Regions from separate parts of the Homo sapiens genome. Here region 1 is linked to region 2. A link means that fine-mapping ties the variant in region 2 to the expression of a gene that starts in the linked region. Tissue or cell type: lung. Region 2 holds a variant in brackets; the other region holds the start of a gene. All regions are shown on one strand. Distances are from middle to middle.

Region 1 (15,306 bases), 20 kb after region 2:
GGAAAAGAGGAGAACGGGGGAGGCCAGCTCTGGGGATCGGGAAAAGAGGGGAACGGGGAAGGCCAGCTCTGGGGAGCGGGAAAAGAGGGGAACGGGGGAGGCCAGCTATGGGGAGCGGGAAAAGAGGGGAACGGGGGCTGCTGGGGGACAGGAGTCCTGTGCCCATTGTGGGGGTGACTTTCTCAACCAAAGCCTGTGCTCACTGCAGAGACTGGCTGGACCAAGATCCCAACGCGGCTGGGTGCATCCATTACCCAATGCGCAACAAACCTCCCGGAGCCGCGTGGTTGAAACATGATTTCTTAGTTCTCATGATTCTGGGCTGGTTCGGAGGATCTTCTGCTGGGCTTGGCTGGGCTCGTGGCTGGGGCAGCTGGGACACCTGGGCCTCCCACTCCCTCTCTGCGTGGTCACCCCTGTGGTCTCAGGCTCTGAGGGGTGGCCCCAACGTGTCTCTGTTGGTCAGGCTGGCTGATGCCCAGGGCCAAGCCCAGCACCCACAGGGAGACAAACCCAAGGGGCACGGAAGCCACGGCCATGGCAATGGACCATGTGGGTGAGCAGAGAAACTGGATTTGGCAAGCGGGGACTGACGGGGGACACGGGGCTTGGCTTGGAGGGCCCAGGGCACAGCCAGGCACCAAGGATGGGGTCTGGGGCTGCTGAAGCCCCACCGTGGGGTCCTAACTGGGTAGGCGAGGGAGTGAGGATGAGAACCAGGGACGGAGAACTGGGGTCCCAGAGCCCACAGAGAGTAGGGGAAGGGCTGGGGCTACCAGGCAAAAACCTGGGTGAGGGGCTCTCAGCAGAACAGTCTCTCCCCAATGACAACCTGTGTGGGGCCCTGGAAGCCAGACAGAGGAGGCCTGGGGCTCTGAGGCTCACTGCCGGGGCTGGCTCAGCCCACACTGGGCAGGAAGACCTCCAGTGTCCTCATGGTTGTCCTTTCTAATTACAAAGACTTTTGGAACCTTTTTAATTTTGCAGGAGGAACCCCTGGCTCCTCTTCCCCAGAGGCCAGCTCTGCCGATTCTGGAAGCGTCTGGCATGGAGCCTGTGCACTCCCCTCCCGACTCTGCACACACCTGATAACGTTTCGCTCCCGCTGCTCCACACAGCTCCCTTTCCTCTCAAACATCTTGGAGACTGTCCTCTGTCAGCACATAGAGACCTCACCTGTCCCTTGAGCCCAGGAGGACAAGGCTGCACGAGCTGTGATCACGTTACTGCACCTCAGCCTGGGCGAAAGAGCAAGACTCTGTCTCCAAAAAAAAAAAAAAAAAAAAAAAAAAAAAAAAAAAAATCCACCTCAATGTTTCTTATGCTCCGGAGAATTCCACAACATGGACACAACGTAGTACTCTGTCTGCTTGGACAGACATTGAAATTGTTCCCCGTCTTCTGCCACTACATGCAGGGCTGCCATGCACTCCCCACGCATGGCGTGGACACAGACGCAGAATCAATTCCTAGGAGTCATCAAGGTGTGAGGGGGACCAGCCTGGCTAACCGGAGAGCTGGTCGAGCATCAGCAGGTGGCTAAGCCAGCGATGGCACCTGCGCTAGCGCCTGCCACTCCTGTTCTCGGGGCAGACATCGCTGACCCATCAGCAGTCCTTCCCTCTGAGCCCAGCCTGAGCTGCTCCGTCCCTGCCCCCGAGGTCAGCAAGCCGATACTACAGACTCCACTGATGGAAGCCAGTGGGACCCCTCTGAACATTCACCCAACTGTGGAATCCGTGAAGTCGGTGTGTAGGTTTCAGAAGAGCGTCTCAATTTACACATGTGCAGTCTCCTTGAGAGGAGCTGGCTGCTGCCTCACGGCCCCACCGCTGTATGCTTGACGTGTGTGTGCAATTTCAAAGACTCTAAGAACATGTGAAGACACGCTGAACAGACACAAGAGCAGCCGCCTCTGCATGTGCCTTGGCAATCACTTCCAGTCTCATGGCGCTTTGGGCTGTCACAGCACAGCACAACACAACAAAATCACTGTGCTCCTGACAGTTTCCAAGCTGGAGACGTGCTTATTGTACTAGCAACACGCGACGTCTGTATGCATCTCATCCATGTGCTGACACTGCTTTTTCTTTCTGACATGACCCTGGACTTGCGATGGTTTCCTGCAGTTTGGAATGGAGTCCTCACCTCCCTTTCCGAATACCACGGATAAATTCCGGCCATTCCTTGCTCGTTGAGTGCCTGATCAAAGGCTAAAGCTGACCAATTACAAGGCTGCTGGGCATTGCCTTACCCATACAGGCTATGAGGGAGGCCACAGCCCTGTCCTCTTCGTAAAGACAAGGAAACTGGGGCACAGAAAGGCGAAGCACACATCACCATCAGCAGGATAAGAATGTGAGCCCAGGAGGCCCGGCCTGCCCCACCCTGCCCTCCTGCAGCTCCATGGCCCCCATCCCCATCCTGGTAACACCAAGGACCTGCCTGCATTCCACACCTATTTCCCATTTGAGGAGGATATAAACAGCCCATTTCCGTCCCCATTGTGCACAGCAGCTGTGGTGGCCGATTAGAATCAGACCAGTGTCACAGGAGCCCCCTTCCTACCATCATCCATGGCACCTTCTCCCAACCCTTTGGACTCCTCTTGTGATCACATGGAGGGAGGTGGTGGAGGTGCCTGCCCGAACCAGGCGGGAAGACCTGCACTCCCTCTTCCCAGGCCTCCCAGGCCCCACAGGCCTTACGGTCCATCAGCGCCAGCCCGCTAACTGCTCGGCACCCAGGGCCTGTTTATTCCTGCATCCACTGGGGACGGGCGTGACACTGCCACCACCTGCAGCCCGGGGATTCCAGGGAATCTGTCTTCTGACTCCAAGCACACAGAGGCAGGTGCCCAGGCCCCGACCCACTGGCCCAGGGCCCAGACCGCGCAAAGGGCCGGAGCCTCGAGGAGAGCACCCGCAGGACCGCCGGCTAGCGAGCACCACCTGGGCAAGACCTGGGCTGCCTTTGGCTGCTGGCTCCAGACTCCACACCCGGCGACTGGATGGCAGACAGGGACTCTGGAGACCCACCAGCCTTGGAAAGGTCACGGGTAAAGGGCAGTGGGCAGGCACAGTGTCTTTATCCAAATGCGTCCTCACCCTCCAGGCTGGGTAGGAGTTGGGAGAGCAGCTTCAGGAGCATCCAGCAAGAGGGTGTATGGCCAGGCTTTACAGGCAGAGGGGGGACAGAGGCCAGGCTGTGGCTGCTCCCTCCAGGACAATGCCTTTCTCCTGCCCACCTCCCCCGTGGCGCTTGGGTTCAAGGGCCTTGCAGAGCGCCTCCCTCACCTGACCTAAGACAGCAAGGAGGCCGAGCCTCCCTCACCTGACCGAAGACAGCAAGGAGGCTGAGCCTCCCTCACCTAAGACAGCAAGGAGGCCGAGCCTCCCTCACCTGACCGAAGACAGCAAGGAGGCCGAGCCTCCCTCACCTGACCGAAGAGAGCAAGGAGGCCAAGCCTCCCTCACCTAAGACAGCAAGGAGGCCAAGCCTCCCTCACCTGACCTAAGACAGCAAGGAGGCCGAGCCTCCCTCACCTGACCTAAGACAGCAAGGAGGCCGAGCCTCCCTCACCTGACCGAAGAGAGCAAGGAGGCCAAGCCTCCCTCACCTAAGACAGCAAGGAGGCCAAGCCTCCCTCACCTGACCTAAGACAGCAAGGAGGCCGAGCCTCCCTCACCTGACCTAAGACAGCAAGGAGGCCGAGCAAGGCCGGTGGCTGCGGGGTCCCTCCCCGGGGCTGAGCCCAGGCTCCGGAATGAGGGGACCCAACCCCCCTATCCCTGCGGATGTAAAGACAGGCCCCCATGCTCCCCTTCTCGGGTGGGGGGAGCCTCTGATCGCAGGAGGAACGCTGTCAATCAGCCACATGCAAGGGAGGCTCGGCATCCCCAAGCCATTCAGTCACTGGACAGCTTTAACCTTACAAACACTCCTAGCCAAATTAGCTTGCGTTCCTTCAGACAGCAAGTTCCACTTCTGAGGGAGCACACAGGGTGCCCACTGCCTACTGGGTGTGCACCCCATCCTCCGCAGCCCATCCCCACCCAGAAGTGCGCCCCTTGCCCATGCCCCACCCCCGCACCTGGGTACCAAGGACATGGGGTAGGGCTGGTCCAGCTTCAACAACTCCCTGGCTCTCGGACCCTGGGCACGGCACTAACCCACCCCACGAAGGTCTTGTCTTCCCACACCAAACCCACCCAGCAGGCGGCCCCAGGGGCCCACCTCCTCTCAGCTCCATCCCATTCCCTCAGAGCCTTTCCCCAACCCTGCCCCGCAACAGGTGCTGGGGATCCAGACACCCAGCAGACAGGCAGACACCACTGCTATTATCCGGCCAAGGAAACCAATGAGAAAACCAATACAAACAGAAACAGTAACACATTTATTGAGCAATTACTGCATGCCAAGCAGCAAAGAGGCAACTCAGGGGTCCCCTTCAAGCCTGGCCACATGGTCCGAGGTGACCACTGCAGGCCCAGCCCCAACAGCAGCGTAAGGAGCACGCACTGGACAACAGAACACTACAGTCCCCAGCTGGTGGCTAGAGAACACCCAGCCAGGCCCAGGGCCACCGTGGGGACATGGCCCAGCCCCACCGCAGGGTTCCCCAGCACAGTCATGTCCTCTGTGGTGCTTGCCACAGAGCAGTTCTGACTGTCTCACCCACACACTGCTGCCTGGTCACCACCAGCTACCCTCCCCACATCAGCCCAGCACCCCCTGCCCTTCCACTTTAGGTCCCCCAATACCTGCTCCATGCAGGCCAGGCTCGGGACCCTCTGTGACTCCCTGCCCCTGCCCCATGGTTCTCTTTCTCTGGGATAGCCCTCACCACAAACGCACTCTCGTGGGCTAAACTGTACCCAGACCCCTGGTGCCTGCGCATGGGAGGTACTGGAAATGAGGTATTTGAAAATGAAATAAAGACGGGGTCATGCTGGATTAAGGTAGGCCCTAAAACCAGTGACTAGAGTCCTTATAAAAAGTGGGAAATTGAGGCCAGGCATGGTGGCTCATGCCTGTAATCCCAGCACTTTGGGAGGCTAAGGGGGGGAGGGGGCAGATCACTTGGGGTCGGGAGTTCAAGACCAGCCTGGCCAACACAGAGAAACTCCGTCTCTACTAAAAATACAAAATTAGCCGGGCGTGGTGGCACGCGCCTATAATCCCAGCTACTCAGGAGGCTGAGGCAGGAGAATCGCTTGAACCTTGAACGTGGGCGGGGGCGCGGAGGTTGTGAGCCCGAGATCGCGCCACTGCACTCTAGCCTGGGCAACAAGAGCGAAACTCCATCTCAAAAAAAAAAAAAAAAAAAAATGATCAAAGCAGAGACACGCTGGATGCACCTACAAGCCAGAGAACACCAAGGGCTGCCCGCAGTCATCAGAAGCCAGGAGAAGAGCAGGTAACTGACCCCTGGACTTGGGACTTCTGGTCTCCAGAACTGTGAGGGAATAGATTTCTGTTGTTTGAAGCCACCTGGGTTGTGGGAATGTGTCAAGGAAGTCACAGGACACGAACGCATCTGCTTATCTCAAAACGCTTCCACTGATGGGACCAGCGTCACAGATGATCCAGCACGTGCTCAGCACTAACTGTGCTCAGACACTATGAGAGGCTGGGGATCAGCAAAGAATAATCAGTCACATGCCAAACTCAGGAGCTCAAGCAAGTGCTACAAGGGCCACATGACTGCCGACGGAGCATGAGACGCGGAACACGTGAGTGAGGCTTTGAAGGTTGAGTAGAAGTTGGCCTGGAAGATCTCCACCCACACAGAATGCTGTAAGGACAAGGTGTAGACCTCTTTCTCCTTCACTACCAAGCAGAATGCTGTAAGGACAAGTTGTAGACCTCCTTCTCCTTCACTACCACGCAGAATGCTGTAAGGACAAGTTGTAGACCTCTTTCTCCTTCGCTACCACGCAGAATGCTGTAAGGACAAGTTGTAGACTTCCTTCTCCTTCACTACCACGCAGGCTTCAGAGGGGTCCCTGGCTTCTCTTAAAGCTCTCGGCATGACACTACCAGCACACACTGTGGACACAGCACACGTCTGAGGCATAGAACATACACCTCTCACACCTTTCTCAGCCTTCTCACACCTCCCAGTAAAAGATCCCTGGGTACATATATTCACCGTCAAAACACCAAGCCCAATACGCAGACTGCTGGCCCTACCAAGCCAAGTCAGCAGCCTAAACTGAAGGCCTATTTCCAATGGTCAGCAGGCTGAGTTTCTGCCCAGGGACCCACGGTCCACAGGTGCATTTCTTCCTTTCTGATCTGATGTTCGGGGCAGCACCTCAATACACACTTTTACCTGGAGAATTTGGGGAGCTTCAATGGAACTGTGTGCGAAGTGCAAATAATGGGATAAACGTTGCAGCCAAAGGTAGCTTCAGGAACAATGACTGTTAAGCTCCAAAAAACCAGAGTGCCAGGAGATGCTCTGGGTTCCAACATTTGCCTCTGAGCCTAGAGCTTGACCTCCGCCTGGCCAAATGTTCCCAGATCAAGGGGCACCAACAGAGCAGACCCTGGAGCCACCGTATGGGATCGACACCTGGCTGTGCCACTTACCAGCAAGGCATTTAGCCCCCCTAGGCCTCAGTGTCCACTTACCAGCAAGGCACGGCCTCCCTAGGCCGCAGCCTCTTTAGCTATTAAACGGGATGCCAGTAGCTTCTATGAAGAATTGGATGAATCAAGATTTATAAAACCCCTAGAACAGTGTCTGGGATACGGTAAGCGCCACATAAGTGTTTACTAAGTAAATTAAAATGCCACACTTGTAAATCTGTATTTCTGCTATTCTCAATCTCTCCTGTTCAGAGTTGGCCAAGGTTCTCATTTGTTAAGACCATCAAATTTCTAAAACTAGCAACAGCAAAGGTAGTCTCAAAATAGGCGATAGATTTAGGACAACTTCCACAGGAGACTGGCACGTCATCAAGGAATAACAGCCTCAGTCAAGGTCAAGGTGAACCCCCTTAGGGAGACAAGCGGCTCCTGGGAACCTAGGAATACCACTGTTTATCCCTGCAATCCCACCAGGGTGAAGACGGAGTCAGAGTTTAGGAAAAAAAACCAATGTCATTCCAACAGATGTTGTGACAACTGAAACGGGTATGGCTAATGCTGATTTTCTTCCGAATCTGTCTTCTACAGAAAAAACAGCAGAAAATACAAAGTCTCAATTTCAAAACTTAGGGCTTTGGATAACGGTGTCCCAAACCCACATAAACGCTGTCTCTTGAAAACCACAAGGCCGAACTTACGGAGCTAGAAGAAAGGTTGTGGAGCAAATCCGTCAAGTTTGTTAGGCGAGGCGGCTGGCGAGGGTGTCACGCTGAAACCCGGCGTAGCCGCGAGGATACGGAGGGGGCGGTGCGCTCCCTACGGGGCCGGGCTGCGTAACGATGCCCCGCAAATGGGGATCGGGACGCGTCCTTCCGTGCCTCCATCGTTCGCGCCTCGCTCCAGGAGCAAGAGGGGCAGCCCCGGCCACAGTCCCCGCGGTCGCAAGTGCGCCCGGAGGCCGACCCGGGCCCCTCACCACTAACCAAAATGAGCGCAGAAAACGAGTACCGCCCGCCGTCGCCACCGAAGCTGGCTGCGGAGCGCGACAAGCCCTCGCCGCGGCTCCGGCCCCGAGGGGTCCCCGTGCGCCCGGCATAGCCCAGGACAGTTCCCAGCGCGCGCCGCGGACTCGGGGGACAGCGCGCTCGGGGGCCGGCAGCCTCCAGCGTCCGCCCGGCCCCCACCGCCCAGTGCCCCGGCCCGAGGGACCCGCGCGCCCCAACAAAGTTGGCGCAGGCTCTCCGGGGACCGCCCCCCACACGGCCGGGTGCCCGCCGGCGCGCAGGCGTGGGACGCGGGGAAGGGCACGGGGCCGCCGTCGGGGCTCGCGGCCGCCCGGCTGCGCCCCGGCTTTGTTCGCGCCCCGCGCCCGCCAGCTGCCCGCGCCCCGTCCCCGCGCGCGCCCGCCCGCAGACCCGCCGCCCAGCGCCGCCGCTCCGGCCCGGCCCACCTTCTGGATGGTTTGCTGCGTAACCTCCCCTTTGCCTCTTGGCCGGGCAGACGCGAAGGCCACGGACATGGTGGCGGCGCGGGGCTCAGCCCGTGGTCATCGAGGTGGATACTCCGGCTGCGCTGGGCGGCCCGAGGCGCTCATTATCCGCAGTCGCGGAGGGGGGGAAGGGGGCGGGAGCGCGGGGGGCGCCGCGTCGTGGGCTCGTCCGCCCCGTCGCCGTCGCCGCGCCTCCGGGCCCGCGGCGCCGCCGCTCCGCCCTGCAGAACGGTCTGCGGCCCAGTGCCGAACGGTGGCCCCCGGCGACCCCCTCGCACCCAGCGCCCGGCCCTCGCCGGAGCACCGCCTCCCACCCCCGGCCACCGGTGGTTCGGCCTGACCCCGCCCCGGCGCGCGCCATCACGTCCGCCCGACGCCGCCTGACGCTGCCCGTCGCCGCCTGACGCCGCCCGTCGCCGGCAGCGCAGGACACGGCGCCGAGGGTGGGGCGCGGGCGTAGTGGCGCCGGGAGTCGCGGGTGCGCGCGGGCCGTGAGTGTGCGCTTTTGAGAGTCGCGGCGGAAGGAGCCCGGCCGCCGCCCGCCGGCATGAGCTACGACCGCGCCATCACCGTCTTCTCGCCCGACGGCCACCTCTTCCAAGTGGAGTACGCGCAGGAGGCCGTCAAGAAGGGCTCGACCGCGGTGAGGCGGCGGGGCCTGCGCGGGGCCGGGGACGCGGGCGGAAGTGGGGCTGGGGAGCCCAGAGAGGGCCGGGGCCGGGCGCGGCGCTGTGGGCGCCCGCGGGCGTGCGCGGGGCAGCGGCGCGGGCGGTCAGGGCTGTAGCTGAGCGCGGGCCCCGCTGCCGGTCTCCACGAGTGCCTGCAGAGGCGGCGTTTGGCGTGAGCCGCGAGCGCTCGTTCTCCCCACTCAGCGCCTCGCTTGGGGCCCGGCCTCGCGTGGGGCCCCGGGCACGGGGGCCGTGACGACGCCATCTTGAGCACCCCTGGCCCCGGCCGGGCGCGTGGGTCGCGCCGCCGCCCCGGCGAGCAGAGGCCGGGCGAGGGCCGCTCTGGGCCGCGGAGCGCGGGGGGTAGGCCGTGCGCTCGCTGGGGGGCTGTTCACGCAGCCGGGTGGCTGGGGAGCGAACTACTCAAACCCCCCTTATGGGGACCCCCACCCGCTCCGGGGCAACACTTATTCTCTAGGCCCAGGTGGGCTTCGAGAACAAAGCGGCTCGCTGGCCTGGCCGGTGGCGGGCGCCTCCCAGGTCTCCGCACTCTGCCGGGAGGAGCCTTCCCGGGGCCGGGCTGCAGCCGCCCGGGTCAGGACTGGTTTGGACGCGGCCGTTTCGTTTTGACGAGGGCTCGTGTACATTGACCTTAGTGACATTGTTTGAAACTTAAATTCGTACCATCAAGACGTGTCAGTTTAATTGGTCAGTCTGTGAGATCGTTATTCTTTTATCATCTGGTATTCAGAGGTTTGAGCAGGCAGAGAAAGCAGCACACACGGTTCTGTAAATTTTGATTTGTTTTCATTTTCTGAATCTTTGTTTTGAAATGAAGGCCCAGTATTCATCAGGTGATCTAACTCAGCTTAAAGAGGACTAGGAGTCGGCTGACCCCTGTACCCACCCCAATACTGCCACCCCCGCCAGCTGGCCGCCGCTGGCTTTAACGAACCCATATAGCTTCTCTGGGCCTCGAGTCAGTCGAAGGTCAAGTGAGTCAGTACCTGAGAAAGCTCCCAGAAAACCCAAACACTTCAGATCAATACTTCTCAGCCAGGGATGGTTTTGGGCCCACACGGAGCCACTGGCAGTGTGTGGAGACTTTTCCAGTGGTAAGACCTTGCAGAGGTGCTCTTGGCATTTGGAGGGTAGAGGCCAGGGACGCTGCTCAATATCCCACCCGTGCTCAGGGCGGCAGGCACAGGGAGATCCCCCTGCCCAGGTGCTCACAGTGCTGAGCTGGAGAAGCCCTGCTCTAAACCAGGAGGCGCTGTTTATCCCAATGATGGTTCCCTTTGTTTCTGGCTTGACTCGGGTTGACTGTCAGTGATTGTTCATGCTTTTAATAACAGCCATATCCTTCTCCAGCATCAGCCATAAACAGTTTGGGATAACACTTGACACCTTGTCCACTGACGGCAAATCAGGCCCCTTCTCATGGCTGTCACATGAGTATGTCACAGTGCAGGAAACAGTGCATTGTGGCTCAATATAATTTCACAACTACAGAAACACTGCCTTCAGAACACCAGACTTGAGTGAAAGTCTCAGGCTTCCAGGCTTTGCATGGGACTGATTCATTGGGTTGAAAGGAAACACATGCCGATTATATAATGGTTACTTACTAGCTATGTTGTAACTAAAACTACATCTCAGTATTTGAAAGGCCCAGGTTGGGCACCTAGGTGAGCACGCCTGGGCTAGCTCTACCAGCAGTAGATGAATACCCCTGGGTTTGCAGGATGTGGTGCCAGCCACAGTGACAGACAAGTAGAGGAGAAAGGGGTGTGGGTGAACGCACCTTCCAGTGGGAGCTGCTACCCGGAGTACGTACCCCCCAGGACCCAGGTTCAGATCTGCTCCTACTGCTCGCTGCCTGGCAGTAGAACCATGTATCACTTTTTTGGGAGGATAGGGTGGGGTGAGGGGACAGGGTCTTGCTGTCTCTGTCTCCCAGCCGTCATGGCTCACTGCAGCCTCCACCTTCCAGGCTCTAGCGATCCTCCCACCAGCCCCCACAGTAGCTGGGACTACAGGCTTCAGCCACCACACCTGGCTAATTTTTGTACTTTTTGTAGAGACAGGGTTTTCCCATGTTGTCCGGCTGGTCTTGAACTCTTGAATTTAAGTCATCCACCCACCTCAGCCTCCCAAAGTGCTGGAATTAACAGGCATGAGCCACTGCACCCAGCACTCATATCACTTTCTTACGTGGTTTGTGGATCTTAATTAAAGGTTGGTGTTCGAGGAAGAGACATTGTTGTTCTTGGTGTGGAGAAGAAGTCAGTGGCCAAACTGCAGGATGAAAGAACAGTGCGGAAGATCTGTGCTTTGGATGACAACGTCTGCATGGCCTTTGCAGGTATGAGTCGGTGGGGAGCGCTGTCTTACTCTCTAGAGTCTCAGCGAAGAATAGGGCTTTGGAGATTAACTTGGGTGTGTGGGCTATTGTGAGCCATATAAACTGAGTAAATGAAAATCATTTAAAAGAATTGGATTTGGACTTTTAAGTTGGCTAGTTTCTTTGGTGGCCTCTCTCTGCCATAGCAGGTGAAACAAATGGCTAAATGGATGAAAACACTTCTGGCTGCTGCGCAATTTGACCTCCACTGTTATTTTTCTGTATCAATCAGTTACAATCTAGAGAAAGGCTGGACTTTCTAGAGCTAACTGCATCTGTGGCATGGAGAGGACAGAACCACGTCCTGCCATCCCCAGCAGTAAAAAGGACCACACTGGTGGATGCAGGCCATGCCTCGCCATGTTCTCAGCGCTGTTTTGGTCTTGCTCATTTCTCCTCTCAGCAGATGCAATCTAGGAAGATCTCAATTCATGTAATGAAATTAGGGATTAACTCAATTTCTAAGATTCCCAAGAGGACTCAGGTACTGTATTTAAGTATGGTCTGAAGTACACAATTCTTCATATGCAGACAGTCCCTGTTGATCTGTGTTTTTAAAAATCCAGATTCTGCACGGCAGCCTACAATTTTTTATTTACAATGGGTTTATGGGGTAGTAAATGCATTTTCAGCCAGGTATTTTTGACTTACGATGAGTTTAGCGGGATACCACCCCACTGCACATCAAGAAGCATCTGTACCCAATTTCCTGGAAGTTCCCAGGGGCTGATAGGTTCCGCTGCCAGTCAGTTAGAATAGCCTTGCTGCCGGTTTGGGGGGTCTGTGGAAGGTTAAATGCTGGGTCATCGTGTCTGTCCCCACCCTGTAGTTTGTGCTGTCTCTCTAGCAGAAGCCTCTCTGCTTTCCTTGCAGGCCTCACCGCCGATGCAAGGATAGTCATCAACAGGGCCCGGGTGGAGTGCCAGAGCCACCGGCTGACTGTGGAGGACCCGGTCACTGTGGAGTACATCACCCGCTACATCGCCAGTCTGAAGCAGGTGGGTGCCTGCCCGCTTGCATGCTCACCTCTGGCAGCAGGGCAGTCACGGCTCCGCCATGGAGGGTCCTGCCATGTCACTTCAGGTGAATCAGAAAACTGATTTATTCTGGGGCGTGATCCTAATCTTGACTTGCACAAGTGTAACTTGACCTAGCTCACCAATTTCAGTAACATTGTTCTGTTCTCAGTTCCTGGCATGGGATATTCCAAATTCCTGTGTCTGGAGGGAAATGATAGCTTTTGTCTTGCCATCCTGAGTGACCAGTCACAAAGCAGTTGAAGGGGGCTGGAAGCCACCCTATGAGGACACGCCATTAGTATGTAAGCAGAATGTGTGTCTACCTGTCAAAGTAATTTCCAGTAACCTGAGTTCACAATTCTGGTCCTAGGTGAGTTTTTCTAGGAGTGAAAATGCAGAAAAGGATGTTGAAAGCTATTGGCTAATGTATCATTTGAACTGCTGATAACCTGAGAAGGGGCTCAGGCATGGTTTAAAATGTTCGTATCTTCACTAAGTACGGTTCTTTCCTCACATGCAGTTTCTTAATTGGATGGCACTGACCTGTTTCTTTTCTTGCTAGCGTTATACGCAGAGCAATGGGCGCAGGCCGTTTGGCATCTCTGCCCTCATCGTGGGTTTCGACTTTGATGGCACTCCTAGGCTCTATCAGACTGACCCCTCGGGCACATACCATGCCTGGAAGGTGAGTTCGTGACAAAGGGGCTTTGGACAGTCTTGCCAGAAAAAGGCTTTGAGGGGTGGGAGGTCCTGGGCTTCCTGCTGTAGGCCCTGTATCAGTGAATGAGTCAGTTTAAGTTAACCTAGTCCTATGAGAGCAAGAAAATGATTAAACATTGCTGTTTGGAAGAAAATCAAAGGGCAGCAAGGTGTAAGCGTAGTCCACATAAATTAAAATTCTTGGGTGGGCGTGGTGACTCACGCCTGTAATCCCAGCACTTTGGGAGGCCGAGGCAGTTGGATCACCTGAGGTCAGGTGTTCGAGACCAGCCTGGCCAACATGGCAGAACCCTGTCTCCACTAAAAATACAAAAAAAATTTGCTGGGCATGGTGGCACATGCCTGTAATCCCAGCTACTCAGGAGGCTGAGGCAGGAAAATCGCTTGAACCCGAGAGGCATAGGTTGCAGTGAGCCGAGATCACACCACTGCACTCCAGGCTGGGCAACAAGAGCAAAACTCTACCTCAAAAAAAAAAAAAAAAAAAAATCTCCCATTGCCTCTTGATAGCGCAGTAAAACATACAATCGTATAACCCCATTCTCGGTAAGAATCAGCATCAACTCTAAAGAGCTCTTTGCAAAAGGAAGCCACGAGGCAGGGCCTGTGTCCACAGCTGCTGTCCAGCACTCCAGCTTGCCTCCTGCCACTGCCACTGGCTGGGCGGCCCATGTAGGGCAGCTGTGTTCCAGGGCTGGCCCTGGGTTGTCATGCCCTATGCCACGTGAGAACATACGTGTCTGTTTTAGGCCAATGCCATAGGTCGGGGTGCCAAGTCAGTGCGCGAGTTCCTGGAGAAGAACTATACTGACGAAGCCATTGAAACAGATGATCTGACCATTAAGCTGGTGATCAAGGCACTCCTGGAAGTAAGTTTGCATTTGGAATCCAGGCAAGGTGGTGAAGATACCACGTTTTGGTGGTGAGTGGTAGGTAGATGAGCAGGAAGGAAGGTGGCAAGGATCCAGCAGTAATGCTTAATGACTGCTGTGTTCCAGGCACTGCTCTGGTCTATGGTGTATCCTAACTGCTGTGTTCCTTGAAATAGCCATGCAAGATGTGATCATTAGTGTCTTTATCCAGCCGGGGCAGCTGAGGGTTGTGCAGGGACACACAGCATGAGAACCAGAGGCAGGATGTGAACCCAGCTGTCCAGCTGTGGAATCTGTTCTCGAGCCATCACTAGGCCTTCCAGAGGCTTGAACTGTTGCTAAAGTCAGGGGATTAGAGAACTGGAGATATGGTTGGGCTTTGTCAAGACCTTGAAGTGCTAGCAGGTAAAACCAGAGAGGGACTAGCTGGAAGGCCAGGCGGGAGCGTAGGCATCAGGATTCCTGGTTGTAACCACTGTGTCAAGAGGAGGGCCTGGAGCAGCGCTACTGTGCAGGAGAGAGGAGTCCCAGTGCTGGGAGGCGGAGGGGTGTGCAGGCATCCCAAACAGACTTCACAAATGGCCATGAGTTTAGGACAAAGACACAGGTTTTGGGGGCTGGGACCTCTGTTCCTGGGACGGTGCTGGGTTTGGGTACACACCTATTTAAGGTACTCCTGAGAGCTGCTTTTGTCTTGAATAGGGAAAGGTGGTTAATGCTCCTGTCTTCTGTCCCTTCAAGGTGGTTCAGTCAGGTGGCAAAAACATTGAACTTGCTGTCATGAGGCGAGATCAATCCCTCAAGGTAATCACCAAGTTTGTCTGCTTTCTTTACCTGTCAGTTTTCTCCCATGATCAGGGCTGAGCAGTACCAGTTCCGAAGGAAACATCATAGGGCCATTCTGTGGTTTTAACATTAGGAAAATGTCTTTCTGAGGCTCCCCATACGTCAAAGAGAAGATTCCCATCTTCCTCTGATTAGATGGTCCACGCGTGTTCTCTGGGCATGCTGAGCGGCTGCCAGTCAGATCTGCTGCTGCTGCTACTGCTGCTTAATACTTGTCTAGGTCAGGCCAGCATCCTCTTGTTTTTCTTGAGGTTCCTCTCCAAAGAGGCTGTATGAGCAGCAGTGCCAAAGCCTGGCCGCCCTCCCCAGAAGAGGGCGCTGGTTCCTTGGCACCTTGTGTGGCTTAGGTAACCATGAAGTTTTTTTCTATAGATTTTAAATCCTGAAGAAATTGAGAAGTATGTTGCTGAAATTGAAAAAGAAAAAGAAGAAAACGAAAAGAAGAAACAAAAGAAAGCATCATGATGAATAAAATGTCTTTGCTTGTAATTTTTAAATTCATATCAATCATGGATGAGTCTCGATGTGTAGGCCTTTCCATTCCATTTATTCACACTGAGTGTCCTACAATAAACTTCCGTATTTTTAACCTGTTTTTTTTTTTAAGAGAATGTGTATCTTTAGGTGCAATCACAGCAGTCCTCTCATCTCTCACCCTTCTTTTTCAACCCTGAGCCACCGTAATTGAGCT
Region 2 (15,306 bases):
TTTTTTGTATTTTTAGTAGAGATGAAGTTTCACCATGTTAGCCAGGATGGTCTCGATCTCCTGACCTTGTGATCCGTTCACCTTGGCCTCCTAAAGTGCTAGGATTACAGGCGTGAGCCACGGTGCCCGACCATGCCCAGGTAATTTTAAATCTTTTGTAGAGACAGGGTCTCTCTATGTTGCCCAGGCTGGTCTCGAACTCTTGGCCTCAAGCAATCCTGCTGCCCCTGCCTTCCAAAGTGCTGGGATTACAGGCGTAAGCCACCATGCTCTGCGCAAAGAATCCATTTTCTACTTTACTTTTCTGGTTGGAAATAACTTTCCTTTTTTAGAAGCTGTAAAATTTAAGTATTTTAAAACTGCAATCTAGTATTTTTTTTAAATAACAGCTTTATTGAGATAATGCACACTGGAATGGCTTAAAAACCTATCAGGGTAATTCAATCTGTAGTTAGGTGGGATGACAAAACTAACACACGCTCTTATTCCAGGCTGAACTCCTCCTAAGGCGAGAGCTTCGGAAAAACTTACTTGAGCCTTTCCAGTTATTCTCTATCCAGGAAGTATCTTGAGTCTTGAACTTCCACGCCTTCCTCTAAATCCAGGGCCGGTTCCAGCAACAGCTGGCAAACGAGCTGTCACCGTCACGGGAGAAGACTTAAGGTCACTATCCTTTCTCCTGCCCCCATGAAAGCCATCTGAGACATGGGGGAGTGGGTTTTCAAGGGTGTCAGGCTTTTGGGGGTCAGCCTGCATATTCTCATGTTTTATAGCCCACTTTATTCTTTACATAATAAAGGAGCCAGTTTGTGGCCGGGTGCGGTGGCTCACGCCTGTAATCCCAGCACTTTGGGAGGCCGAGGCGGGTGGATCACAAGGTCAGGAGATCGAGATCATCCTGGCTAACATGGTGAAACCCCGTCTCTACTAAAAATACAAAAAATTTAGCCCGGCATGGTGGCGGGAGCCTGTAGTCCCAGCTACTCGGGAGGCTGAGGCAGGAGAATGGTGTGAACCCAGGAGGAGGAGGTTGCAGTGAGCCGAGATCGCATCACTGCACTCCAGCCTGGGCGATAGAGTGAGACTCCATCTCAAAAAAACATAAACAAAAAAAAAAAATAAAGGAGCCAGTTTGTAGGAAACGGGCCAGCTTTGCCCTGGCACCCAGCAGGTATGCAACAACTGTGAGAGTGCCAGCTCAGAACACCCAGCCCCAGCACACAGGGACCAGGCCTGGCTCTCACACCCCAGTGGGTGCTCAGGCGATCTAGTGGGAACTGGCAGCAGCCGCCCTATCCCCAAAGAAAGGGGGCTGCTGAGATAACTGCAGGGAAAGGGGGCACGACATCTGTGGAAAAGGCCTTTGCCGTTTTCAGATGTGTTGCATGAAATCTGCAGGGCTCGGGGGAGCCCAGGCCGTGCTCTCAACAGGACAGCAACGGGGCGGGCAGATGTGGGGCCTTCCTCCACAACCAGCAAGTACTCCAGGGTTCTTTCTTTTCTTTTCGAGATGGAGTCTCGCTCTGTCACCCAGGCTGGAGTGCAGTGGCACAATCTCGGCTCACTGCAAGCTCTGCCTCCGGGGTTCACGCCATTCTCCTGCCTCGGCCTCCTGAGTAGCTGGGACAACAGGCGCCCGCCACCACGCCCAGCTAATTTTTTTCTATTTTTAGTAGAGACGGGGTTTCACCGTGTTAGCCACGATGGTCTCGATCTCCTGACCTCGTGATCCGCCTGCCCCGGCCTCCCAAAGTGCTGAGATTACAGGCGTGAGCCACCGTGCCCAGCTCTTTTCTTTCTCTAAGAATCCTCTGGCATTCTGCGGGGTGCCCGTGAGAAGGTGCCGGGCAGCATGGCGCATCTGTGTGTGAAACAAGAGGCCACGGCACACCCTCTGCTTCCTCAGAAGGAGCAAGATGTGGACACAATGAGCCACGAGGAACATGTGAACGACGCTCAAAGCCGTGTCACATAAAAACACAGTGATCCACACGAGGACGCAGCCAAGGCGGCCCCAGCACTGCCCAGGGAAGATGAGTCCCACAGGCCCCGGCCACACCACCCTGTCGTCCACTCCTGGGACACGCTGGTCACCACCTGGCGAGGGCCTGAGAAATGCACACGACACGCCAGCCGCGCTCGGGACTCCAGGAGGTGTGGACGGTGTGGACAGCCATAAAGTGAGGTCCTTTCAGTTTCTGTGACAGCCAATGATGTTCCTTTTTTTTTTTTGGAGATGGAGTCTCGCTTTGCCGCCCCAGGCTGGAGTGCAGTTGCGTGATCTTGGCTCACTGCTACCTCTGCCTCCTGGGTTCAAGTGATTCTCATACCTCAGCCTCACAAGCAGCTGGCTTTACAGACATGCGCCACCAAGCCCAGCTAGTTTTTGTATTTTTGGTCGAGATGGGGTTTCACCATGGTGGCCAGGCTAGTCTCAAACTACTGATCTCAAGTGATCCACCCGCCTCAGCCTCCCAGAGTGCTGAGATTACAGGCGTGAGCCACTCTGCCCGGCCCCAATGATGTTTAATTTAACTTCTGAAGCTGCCAATACATCTACATGATTCAAAGGTACATACAGACGGACTCATACCTTCAAGAGGTCCTGGGAAGGTGGCCGCTTCCACCCCTGCTCTGGACTGCCTGAGCCCTAACCCCATCTCCTACCCGGAAGCATTTGTGTTGGTTGTTTTGGTGTTTGTCCATTGGCTGACGGTGTGAGTGTGCGTGTGTGCAAGGGCACAGTCTCCTCTTGCCTGCATTTTCACAGAGGCACATCCCATGCGCCCAGCTCCATACTTGGCTTTGGCAGCTCATGGGCGGTCTCTCCTAGCAGCAATGGCGCCCAGATGCCAGGTCACGAGGGGCTGCGCTCTGTCCAGTATGCGTCACTGCAAACCTCACTGTGACGCGAACGCGGGACTCGCACCCTCTCCTGGCCCCTCCCCCACCGAGCACCACATCCCGATGCTCCTGCCCAGCACAAGTGACCCCGTGGCCCCCGCTGTCCCCTCCTGGCTTGGTCAGCCCCACTCTGGTCCCCTCCTATTACTGGTGCCCTGCGCATGAACACCCTCTCGTTTTATCAGATTCTGCAGGCTCCTGACTGATGCCGTCACCAGGAACAATTCCAGCACCAGCCTGTCCCACTCATCCTGCTGTGGGATGACTCAAAAGTTGGAAAATTCTTTTTATTTTTGAGACAGGGTCTTGCTCTGTTGCCAAGGCTGGAGCGCAGTGGTGTGATCATAGTTAAGTACAGCTTCGACCTCCCGGGCTCAAGCTATGCTCCTGCCTCAGCCTCCCAAGTAGCTGGGACAACAGGCGCATGCCACCACACCTGGCTAATGTTTTTTAGTAGAGAGGGGGTCTTACTATGTTGCCTAGGCTGGTCTCGACCTCTCAGGCTCACGTGATCCTCTGCCCTGGCCCCCACAATGCTGGGATCACAGGTGGGAGCCACTGCACCTGGCCTGATGCTGGGATCACAGGTGGGAGCCACTGCACCCGGCCTGGAAAGTTCTTTATGGTGCCTTTGACCCATTCCTCCTAACGTCCCCCCAGCCTCTCCACTGCACCATGGGCCACAGTTGTGTTTGAAGGTGGCTATGACACATCCGCCAATCTCTTCAAAGCAAAGCATCTCCAGGCCTCTCACCCCTGCAAGACTTCACAGTACCACCTGCTGTAGGGTAAAGTGTCACCATGTATGTGCACTCCTCATGTCAGAGTCTAACAAACAGATGGAATAAAATGCTTCTAAATCAAGGAGGAAACCACACCATCTGTCTTACTGGCCTTAAGAGGTTACTAAGCTTTTCAGCAAATTTCTCATCAATGATGGAAGGCAAGAGTACCTAACCCACAACAAGCTACGGAAGTACCTATCAGCCAGGCACAATGGCGCACACCTGGAGCCCCTGCACTGTAGGAGGCTGAGGTGGCACTTGAGCCCAGGAGTTCAAAACCAGCCTGGGCAACATGGCAAGACCTTATCTCTACAAAAATTAAAAAAAAAAAAAAAAAAAAAAAAGCCAGGCCTGGTGGTGCATGCCTTTAGTCCCAGCAATTCGAGAGGCTGAAGCAGGAGGATCACTTGAGCCTGGGATTTCCAGGCTGCAGTGTGCCACGATCAGGCCACTGCACTCCAGCCTAGGTGATAGGGCAAGACCCTGTCTCTTTAAAAAAAAAAAAAAAGTAGCTACATCAGACACTAAAAGGCTGAGCAGCACATCCTGCGTTTGTTTTTGGGACAAAGTGTGGCAGCCTTGGGCAGACGCATGTGGACACCTCGCCATGGACAAGGCTGAACCCTGTGCTCCAGCTGGAAGGGACAGGGCCAGGCCCATGATGGCAGAGATCCTGCTGACTCCCAGGGCTTACGGAGGCACCACTGCAGCCAATATGCCAGAAGATAGCCTCTGGGTGCTGGCCACAGGGTGGCTTTTGTTTTGAGACAGGGTCTGGCTCGGTCACCCAGGCTGGAGTGCTGTAGTGCAATCTCAACTCACTGCAACCTCTGCCTCTGGGTTCAAGCGATTCTCCCACCTCAGCCTCCTGAGTAGCTGGGATTACAGGTACCCGCCACCACGCCCGGCATTTTTTTTTTTTTTTTCGGGAGAGAAAGGGTTTTGCCATGTTGCCCATGCTGGCCTCAAACTCCTGAGCTCGGCCGGGCGCGGTGGCTCACGCCTGTAATCCCAGCACTTTGGGAGGCTGAGGCAGGTGGATCATGAGGTCAGGGGTTCGAGACCAGACTGACCAACATGATGAAACCCCATCTCTACTGAAAATACAAAAATTAGCTGGGTGTGGTGGCGGGGCCTGTAATCCGAGCTACTCAAGAGGCTGAGGCAGGAGAATTGCTTGAACCTGGGAGGCGGAGGTGGCAGTGAGCCAAGATCATACCACTGCACTCCAGCCTCGGCGACAGAGTGAGACTCCGTCTCAAAAAAAAAAAAAAAAAAAAACAAACAAACTCCTGAGCTCAAGCAATCCTCCTCCACTGGCCTCCCAAAGTGCTGGGATTACAGGCGTAAGCCACCATGCCTGGCCATTTCTTTTTTTTATTTCTTTTTATTTTTTTTGAGACAAAGTTTCACTCTTGTTGCCCAGGCTGGAGTGCAATGGCATGATCTCAGCTCACTGCAACCTACACCTCCCGGGTTCAAGCAATTCTCCTGCCTCAGCCTCTTGAGTAGCTCAGATTACAGGCACATGCCACCACGTCCAACTAATTTTTGTATTTTTAGTAGAGACGGGGTTTCACCGTGTTGGCCAGGCTGGTCTCAAACTCCTGACCTCAGGTGATCCACCCACCTCAGCTTCCTAAAGTGCTGGGATTATAGGCGTGAGCCACAACACCTAGGCTCTTTCTTCTTTTAAACTTTCATTATGTATTCATGTACTTTTTGTTTCCCCCAGGTTTACAAAGGTGTAACTGACATTTCAACGTTGCAGGCATTCGTAGCGCACACCGTGATGTTTCTATATGTGCCTACACTTGCGTGCTTTATTTCTTCACAGCAGGCTGAGATGTGTAAGCTCAGAAGCAAAACCTTTACACATCCAATTCTTTAAGAAGTAACCCAAACAAGGAAATCTGTAGCCGTTTAGTGCCTGCCTGCTTTGTGTACCTGGTGAAGCCTCACCAACACTGTTACCTCTTGATAAATTGCAGCCCTGCAGTGGGAAGGCCTCAGCCACTGCTGCCTGCCGGTCAGCGTCAGCAGACACGAGGCCCCTCTCCCCAGGGACTGCAGGCCCGCCTTCCCTCCCGGACGAGGTTGCGCAATCCCGCAGGCGATCATCAGCTCTTCTCTGGGGGCCATCTTTATCCCGGGGTGGGACTGGAACGGGCTGTGTGTACCTCTTCCCAACTCCACATTCTGGGATGTTCTGTTGGGGTTTCAGGGCAGCCAGGGTGGGGGCACAGACACCACAGAAAGGGGCAAGTCCACCCGACACGCAGCCCCCAGCGCAGCACTGCCCAGGACCGCCATGAAGGGCGGCAAGCCCCCAGCCACAGATGTGCGTTTCCTGGCCTGCAGGTGTCTGAAGAAACGCGAGGCCACACCCAGCGCAGCCACTGCTGGCCTCCAGCTGAGGAAGCTCTGAGAGTGGCTCGCAGGCCCCACGATCCCTGGCCAGACCCAATAACAGAGTCTGTGTCCCCAACCCCAGCATGGCCGGCTGAATCCTTCCTGTCGCAGGCCCCACGCTCCCTGGCTGGACCCAATAACCAAGTCTGTGCCCCCAACCCCAGCATGGCCGGCTGAATCCTTTCCTGTCTCACGAACACACCCATAAGGCAAGCGGGGCTCCCGACACAGCCTGAATTTCCAGCTTCCAGAACACACTGTCTCTCCTCCCACGCGCTGTGCTGTGATTTAAGGGACTCACTGAAGGCAGGCACCGCGTGCTCCTAAGGGTGCAGCGTCTTAACTCTGCTGCGTGTGGCGCTTACGCTCGAGCCCAGCACGCAGCCGTGCTCCTTACCCCCCTCATAGTAGTGCTGCGTGGACTCCTCGAAGGACCGGTCGTAGCTCTGCTCCGTGTAGGATGACTGCTGGTAGGCGTAATCGCCATGGCCTGTGCGAAACGGAGACGGCGACAGTCAGCGGAGGCTGTGCACTGCACAGGTCCCGGAGGAGGCAACTGAGACCCAGGCTGGGGAGATGTTGTCTGGCCAGGGAGGCAACAAGAGCCGGCAGGACCCGTGTTCCCCAAAACCATGCCCCAACCTCCTGAGCCTCGGCCTCCCCACTGAAATGCAGACATCAATGCCTCCTTCTCGGGGCGACTGTGAAGCTACCTGGGGATTTATGCAGAGGATCAGCGCTTTCAGTGCCTGCCACACAGCCATGCTAGTGACCCGACTGCCTTCTCCCCGCCACCGCTAGCTCCTGGGAGGACGCAGGCAGGGGTGTCCAACCCTTACCGAGGCCTTCGCTGCATGTGACCATCACGTGGCCAGGGTGGCTTGCCCTGCTGCCACCTGCCCACCTGTCTGTGCACCTGCCCCTTGCTGGCTGAGGCCAGCTCCCTGCCTGGATGCCTCCCAGGGATCAATCCAGCCTTTAAGACCACTTTATTTTATTGTTATTTTTACTTTATTTAGAGACAGGATCCTGCTCTGTCACCAAGGCTGGAGTGTGGTGGTGCGATCATGGCTCAATGCAGCTTCAACCTCCTGGGCTGAAGCGATCCTCCTGCCTCAGCCTCCCAAAGTGCCGGAATGACAGGTGTGAACCGCTGTTTTCAGCCAAGACCACTTTCAGTATCCCTTCCACAAGCCCTGGGACTATGCAAAGACTGAAAGGTGACGACGGTAAAATACTCTGCAGAGATGAGAAGGTGCAGGAGGAGAGGTGCTGCAGGTGGAGCCGTCACCTTCAGGGCATTCTCTGTGAAGCTGGGAGGCGCCTTCTTGAACATTTCCACCTATCTACAGCTAGGAGCTACAATTATCCGCCTCCAACTCCCACAGCCTTTCAGGAAGTAGAGGCAAGGCCGCGTGGAGGCCAGTGCAGCGGTGTGTGCCACAGCTTCTCTCTGCAGAGGCCAGGCACCACTGCCAGCCCAGCTCACCCCATCCCCTACCTTGCTCCTGCAGGGCGTCTGGCCACTCTGCCTGTAGCCCAGGCCTGAGCTGGAATGACTGAGGACACACTGCAGTGGCCACACCCTCCTTGCCCTCCTTGCCCTCCTTGCCCCTGCAGCTGCTCTGCGTTCCTGGGCGGGGTCAGGCCGCCGCCAGTGCTCACCGTCGGGGTAGTACTGCTGGCCCATGGGCTCCGCGGCGCCCTGGCTGTGGCTGTACTGCTCGCCATAGTACTCCTCCTGGCCCAGGTACTGCTGGGAAGAGCCTGCGGGGGAACCACATTCAGCGCCAGTGCGGGCCGCGCCCTCCTCCCTCAGAGGACCTGCTCGCTCACTGGGGAAGCCAAGGCCTTGCTGAATGGCCTCACCCACCCGAGGAGAA[C/A]ACCCCACGCTGTCATCGTATCCAACTTATGTTTTGTATTTTTAGTACAGAGTTTCACCATGTTGGCCAGGCTGGTCTTGAGCACCTGGCCTCAGGTGATCCGCCCACCTCGGCCTCCCAAAGTGCTCGGACTACAGGCATGAGCCCGGCCTGTGACACTCTTAATGACAACTGCCGCCCCTGCCCCCAACACTGACTCCTCGGGGACAGCAGACCCTCCACGGGCCACACCCTGGCCCTCACCCCCAGGGTCCACACTCAATGTTAACACCAAGGCGCCAAGCCTCACTCCCCCAGGCTCCCCGCCTCACTCCCCCAGGCTCCCCGAAGAGAAGCACACACAGCCTGGCACTTCACGACCCGCGGCGGTCAGCTGTGCCCGCGACCTGGCCCGGCCGGGCGTTACCTTGCTGGGAGGGCCGGTAGGGCGCCATGGGCCGCTGCCCCATCATGCTGCTCCCCTGGCTGCCCTGCCCCATCATGGCGATGGACGACTGGCCCTGGTAGTGCTGGCTGCCGCCCTGCGCCGAGCTGTAGTGCGACGTGGCCGCCTGCTGCTGCATCATGGAGACTGAACGACAGGACAGAGGCCCCACATCACCCCGGGAAGCCTCCCGCCCTCCCTCCCACACCCAACTACCTCCTGCGCCCGGGCGGGTTCCTCGTTATTTTCCTGTGCTCCCCACGAGGACAGCGTCCTCCACCGCAAGGCACGCCTCCCCTACGTGGCCTGCACTGACGCCCTGCAAGCTCAGACCCGCTGCTTGCACCGACTCTACCCCACCTCTGAGAGCCCAGTGCTGTCTGTCCAGACCCAGGGCCAGTGGCCCCCACTCCCTGGGGCATTCCCTGAGACTCCATGGGAAACACCCCAGCCCCTCGCAAAGCTGGGGGACAGGAGGAGTTGATCGTGCACCCACTGGCGCCCATCCCTCCGGAAGCTCTCAGAGGCAGCGGCCAGCCCCGATTCACGGGCCCCTCCCCTCCAGCACCCAGCAGGAGGGCAGCTTCCCCGGGACCACATGTCCAACGTGCATGTGTCAAGGGTCTTGGAGGCAGGCCCAGGCCCCCCGGGGTTGCAGAGGCAGAGTAGGTACCTGGGTTGGACTGCATGTTGATGTTGGTCCGAGACACGTAGTTGCCGATGGTGCCTTGCCCCTGCATGGGGACGCCCTGCGAGGCGGGTCCCGCGTGGCTGTAGCCGGGCCCAGAGATGCTCATGGAGGTGGTGGGCAGCGTGTTAGGCGCCGTCTGCTGCATGGACACGTGGCTCGGCCCTGGCATGGGGAGCAGGGAGTGGTGTCAGGCACTGGGGAGCCAGGTCACCACTTCTGAAGGTGAAGACACCCCAATTTCCCTTCAAGTGACTTTGGGAAGAGTTGCTATCAACAGCACTATTAATGATTAAGTGACTAATAAATAAGTGGCCGGGAGCAGTGGCTCATGCCTGTAATCCCAGCACTTTGGGAGGCCGAGGTGGGTGGATCACCTGAAGTCAAGAGTTCGAAACCAGCCTGGACAACATGGTGAAACCCCGTCTCTACTAAAAATACAAAAAAATTAGCCAGGTGTGGTGGCACGTGCCTATAATCCCAGCTACTTGGGAGGCTGAGGCCGGAGAACTGCTTTAACCCGGGAGGCGGAGGTTGCAGTGGGCCAAGATCATGCCCATTGCACTCCAGCCTGGCCGACTAGAGCGAGACTCTGTCTCAAAAAAAAAAGAAAAGAAAACAAAGCAGCGTACATGCTAGCAAAGCACAGGATGAATCGTTTATTTGTTGTTATTTTGTTATTATTTTCTGAGACAGGGTCTGGCTCTGTCACCCAGGCTGCAGGGCAGTGGCATGAACAAGGCTCACTTCAGCCTCACCCTCCCAAGCTCAAGTGACCCTCTCTCCTCAGTCTCCCGAGTATTTAACAGTTTGGACTACAAGTGTGCACCATCACACCCGGCTAATATTTTTATTTTTTGTAAAGATGGGGCTTTGCCATATTGCCCAGGCTGGTCTCAAACTCCTGGCCTCAAGTAGTCTGCTGGTTTAGGCCTCACAAAGGGTTGGGATTAGAGATCTGAGCCACCACACCCGGCCTGTTATATTACTGTTAATGGTCTCCAAACGTTATCCATGCTTCTCAATCCAAAGACAGGAGCATTCCATTCCTATTACACAATCCACCTGGAACCCCGCAACTTGCATTTGAATTTGATGGAACGTGACAGTGTCAGAGAGAGTGGACAACTGGAGCAGGGGCTCAGCCCAGCCGCACGGCACGCTCGCTGCGGCCCTGAGCCTGGGCGATGGCAGCCGACCTGTGGCTACCCCAGGAGGAGTGGGTCCCATGCCCAGCCCTGTGAGGGGTGGGGTGCCCCACCATGGCAGCCGGCTGCCCAAGGGCTGCCTTGGTGGCCTCGTAGCCAGGAACGTCCTCCTCCCCCGCCGCACTCACCGTTGCCAATCTGGCCCTGCAGGAGGGAGGAGGGTGGCAGGCCCGTGCTGATGGCGTCACTCAGGCTGCCCTGAGAGTGCAGGCCCTGGCTGGAGCCGCTCTGAGTCAGGGCTCCAGGGCCCAGGTTCATGTTCTGCGTGGGCGGCTGCAGGCAACAGGAAGTTTTCAGGGAAAAACGGTTAATTTACGGAGAGCGACCTCCACAAGCCAGGCCAGGGATGAGAGGGCACCCGAGATTTGCCGCCACACATCATGGCCACCTGGTCAATGTTCGTAATCAGCAGCCATCGTCACAGCCAGGTGACCGCAGAGCACCAGGCCCAGATGGAGATGGCAGAGTGAGCATCTGGGTGAGCGTTCACAACCCTACTGAGTATCAAGTTCATCCACACGTGCCTGGGTGTGAAAAGCTGGACCTCCTCCTGGGACAGCAGGGAACCCCTTTCCCGGCCCACCAGGCTGAACGCACCCCGTCCCCCTCGGGCGCAGGTGACCAGCGCCTCTGTGCTCCCCAACCACGACCCCTCCGTGCCAAGAGCTTCGGCAGAGGTGGGATCCCTCTCCTGTTTCCCGTGCTCCTGCTGCATGTGCCCCTTCCCCGACTACCCCCACCCCACACCCGCCTCGGATCACACCGCACAGAAGGGAGTGAGTGTGAAGTGGCCCTCAGCACTCTCCCAGATCAAGGTCAACCAGCAGCTCTGGAGGTCTGCACACACATGCTGTCTACACCTGGCCAAGAAAAGGAAATTTCCACCAGGACCTGTGGGTGTCTGCAGGGTGAAGAAGTGCAATTTGACAGGTCAATGGAGGTGGGTTTAACATTTTTACTCGCAAGACACATCCTGGCATTTATGTCATCACTTGCCGAGGACTAAGGGTCACTAGGAGATACGTCATTCCCGGCGACATGTCTGTCCCGGAACCCCGTCAGCAGGACAGAGGCTGCAGCAGCACGACCTCGTCTTCACTGTGACAATTTAATCTTGGAAAAATGCATTTTAAAAAATCAAACAAAATAAAATATTTGAACTAACACTGGGAGAATTTACTGTGCTGGGCATGTTCTCTTTTAAGTTCCGTTCTCACCCACAGCAGCGCATGTGCACGGTTCACAGTGGCTCAAAGCACCCGGAGAGGCTCCAGGGAGACGCAGGGCCCCCATCCCACCTCTCCCCATCCCACCTCTCCCCACCCCACCTCTCCCCACCTCTCCCCATCCCACCTCTCTCCACCTCTCCCCACCCCACCTCTCTCCACCTCTCCCCACCCCACCCCACCTCTCCCCACCCCACCTCTCCCCATCCCACCTCTCCCCACCCCCGACCCGAGAGCTGCGGCTGCTCCTGGAGTGGCTTCTCCGGGGCTTCCCTCCCTTCAATACATAACGAGGCTGAGCCACAGTTCTGACCTGGCCACCTCAGACGCTGTCATTACTCCCAGTCTGTCAGGAAGGGTTGGTCACCACCGCCCACACTCCCATTTCTGGTGGCTCTAGTGGTATTTTTGGTTTCTCTGAGTCATCTTTGCTACCTGAGATGACATGCCCACAATTCCGATCTTAGGCAGTGTCGGAGTCCTTGCTGGGTAAAGGAGGCCAACCCCCCGTGGGTACTCACGGCAGGAAGCAGGGACTGCATGTTCTGGTTGGAGTCTGCGATCGTGGCCAGGTATACCAGGTTCCGGTGCAGGATCTGCTGGTACCTGCAGGAGAGGGGGCACGCATGAGGCAGGACGACGGGACCACAGAGTCCCCACGTGGATCCAAGGCAGAAGTAAAGTGTGAACAAGACAGCCTGACATCCAGCCAAACCCCATGAGGACATGGACCCCAGATGACACCCAGCTGGACACAGGCAGGTGGCAGGGTGCTGGGGTCTCGGTGGGGACGGGAGGGCAGCCTCTACCCCAAACCCTGAGCAGGCTCCCAACCCATGACAAAAACTCTGGAAAGACTCTAAGGTAACAGCTAAGCGGAAGCTGGCATTGGTCTGTTCAGAGGATAGAGATGGGGGGAGGCCACGAGGAGGCAGGGGCCCGAAGGTGACAGAGGGACAGAGCCCTCGTCCAGCTGAGCCAGGCAGTGGGCGGACTCCATAGAGCCAACGACCCTGAGAAAGCCCTGGAAAGAAATGGGGAAGCACAGTTCTGCCAGGGAAGGCCCCTCGTATACCTCGCACCAGTGGGGACCCAGTCCCTTCACCCCACCCACACCCAGGGGTGTCTGAGGCCATTCACGCACTTCCCACCTCCAGGTCAGTCTGACGGCCACTTGGACAGCCGCTTGGAGGGTGGCAGACTGGCCACGCACCCCTCCTACGCATCAGGCCCTAGGTTCACAGGGTCACAGGAGGTCCCACCTGGAGTAGGTGCTGTCTCCTGGTGCGCTGGCTGTTGGCCACAGAGCTGCCCAGAGAGGCTGGCCCAGGCCTCCCCACACTGCTCCTGCCTCCCACTTTCCGCCTCCCTCAGAACTACCCCAGTTCTGGCAGCAATGCTTCGCAGCTGTGCCAGGGACTCTCGGGACATATCTGGCCTCCGTGCTGGGGGACTCTCGGGACATATCTGGCCTCCGTGCTGGGGGACTCTCGGGACATATCTGGCCTCCGTGCTGGGGGACTCTCGGGACATATCTGACCTCCGTGCTGGGGGACTCCTGGGACATATCTGGCCTCTGTGCAGGGGACTCCTGGGACATATCTGGCCTCCGTGCTGGGGACTCCTGGGACTTATCTGATCTCTGTGCTGGGGGACTCTTGGGACGTATCTGGCCTCTGTGCTTAGACTCTGCATGACACCCTCCAAGTGTTCCGGTGTATGGCGGGCACTCACTGCGTGCACTCGGCCGTCTTGCCCTTGCTCTGGTACTCCAGGATGCACTGGATCAGGTGGTGGTTCTCGTCCAGCATCTGCGGAGAGAGCGTGAGCGGGCGCTGCCGACGCGGGGCTGTCGCTGACCCTCGGGATGAACAGCCATCGCTACACATCTAGTTTTCATATAGGTTGAGCGTCCCTTACGTGAAACGTGTCAGATTTCAGATTTTTCCAGATTTGGGGATATCTGTATTAGACCCACCGGTTTGGCATCCCTAATCCGAAAACCCGAAATCCAAAATGCTCCAATGAGCATTTCCTTTGAGCCTCATGTTGGTGCTCAAAAGGTTCTGGATTTTGGAGCACTTCAAATTTCCAGATCTCGGATGCTACGCCTGTTCTGTATACGAAACTGTCGTTACGTGCATTGCCTCAGCCACCACAGACCGAACATTCACACCTCCCTGTGCTGGGGACTTCATCCGTAAGCGGCAGGGCCATCTAAGCCCACAAATGAAAACACAGAGGCCCCGTGCCCCCAGCAGCCCCCAGCCCGAAGGACCCTCCAGCTTCCAGGGCCCTTGACGGCAGAGCATCTGTGCAGCAAGGGTCAGCCAAGCCGATGGCAAGGATGTCAGGACCCTGTGGGCACCCCACAAGAGGCCCTGGTGCCCCTAGCTGGAGGGGATAGCCTCGAATTGCAACCACACAGGGTGGGGCACAGGTAACTGCCCCCTCCCAAGGATCAGCAGGGGTCCAGGGCACTCCCAGGTGGTAAGGGCATCGAGACTTCCTGCAGGGGCTGCACCAACCGCGGTGAGGGAGGGAAGGAAAGGGTCTGGGGGGGTCAGGGACGGCACCACCGGTAGAAGAAACCACACACACACACAGGCCGGCGTGGGGGCAGAAAAGATGCGTGAGACTGCGGAACCGGGCATGACCTAGACCTGGGGCTGGCACCCCGCAGCCCTCACCCCCAGGGGTGCTGCGCTGAAATGCAGGAGAACGGCACGATAGGCCCACAGGCCACACAGGGAAGGCCGGTCCCGTCTTGAACCTTCCGTGTCTTACACATAAAGTGTGTGTGCACAGACAAGGTCATGACCCTAAACCCAGATTAAACCAGTTTCAAGTGACTCAGGTGAACAGCCAGATGTGGGCCTCCCAGAGCTGGGCCAGGGGTCTCTCTGCAGGCGCCACGTGCTCCTAGAACTGGCAAAATGGAGGCTTCTGGTCCAGGGACGGCCAGGCATACACTCCGCCAAGCACGGTCTGCGCTCAAGATGGGCACTGCCAGGAACCTGTCAGATGCAGGGGCTCAGCCTGTCTCTGACCTGGTGACCCACGTGCCTGGCCACACCTGAGCAGCAGGGGGCTGGGCCCACAGATTCCCCAGGTTTCCTTCCCAAAGCGCCTCCTGAACGTGCTCTGTGGCCCCAGGAGGGCTCCGGAGCACTCCCCAAATCAAGCGGCCCAAGGCCTTGCGTCCACACACCTGCACGTAGTCAGGACGTGCTGAGTCTGGTGGTTGGTAGAAGTGGGGAGGGGTGGGTGGCAGCAGAGGAACAGGGGCTGGGGCCAGGCGGCATCCTGCAGACACCACACAGGACGCCCACAGGCCGTGGGGAGCAGGCACAGGAGAGCCGGCTCTTTCAAGGTGTCCACCTGGGGGCAGCACTGGGTGGCCCGCGGAGACCCAACGGGAGGCGAGAGAGGAGAGAGGGGGTATGGGAGGGGACTGAGAAGAGGCGACACCCGCCCTGTGACCAGCTGCCTCTGTCTGCAGGGAGGCACAGAACTGAGCCCACCACGCCTGCTGCTTTTCATAAAAAGGCCTTTTCTCAGAGGCTGGCACCCAAGGAAAAAGCAGTGCCTTTTGGCTCCACTACAGCGTGCTGGGTCACTCAGCCCTAGGAGGCCGCTCCCGACAGGAGCTCTACAGGCCCTGGAGCAGGGGAGCCCCAGGGCAAGGGGAGGAGGAGCCCACCTGCCTGCCTGGGGCCTTGGGGCCACCCAGCTGTGCCTCCACCCTGCAACGTGGCCCCTCTAACTGCGATTTG

Evidence for each region.
Region 1: PSMA7 starts here. The variant in region 2 is fine-mapped to the expression of PSMA7 in lung (TOPMed, PIP above 0.99).

The regions. Positions count from the first base shown.
Region 1 is chr20:62,136,631-62,151,936 of GRCh38, reverse strand. It overlaps PSMA7 (proteasome 20S subunit alpha 7), which reads left to right and starts at 8,543. Exons shown (of 7, transcript NM_002792.4): 1 at 8,543-8,729; 2 at 10,993-11,119; 3 at 12,032-12,156; 4 at 12,740-12,862; 5 at 13,647-13,766; 6 at 14,511-14,573; 7 at 14,988-15,204. The coding sequence starts at 8,634. The coding sequence ends at 15,080. SS18L1 (SS18L1 subunit of BAF chromatin remodeling complex) reads right to left here and starts at 8,168. Exons shown (of 11, transcript NM_198935.3): 1 at 8,048-8,168. The coding sequence starts at 8,116. RefSeq lists enhancers at 1,483-2,220, 2,150-2,444 and silencers at 7,692-7,741, 7,772-7,831, 7,952-8,661, 8,702-9,341.
Region 2 is chr20:62,156,707-62,172,012 of GRCh38, reverse strand. SS18L1 (SS18L1 subunit of BAF chromatin remodeling complex) reads right to left here. Exons shown (of 11, transcript NM_198935.3): 2 at 13,265-13,341; 3 at 12,052-12,136; 4 at 10,433-10,577; 5 at 9,082-9,261; 6 at 8,391-8,555; 7 at 7,767-7,868; 8 at 6,499-6,591. Among named protein-coding and RNA genes, the nearest start is that of MTG2, 19 kb to the left of the region's middle. RefSeq lists enhancers at 9,870-10,482, 10,483-11,095, 10,778-11,977. The variant C/A (reference allele first, on the strand shown) is at 7,985.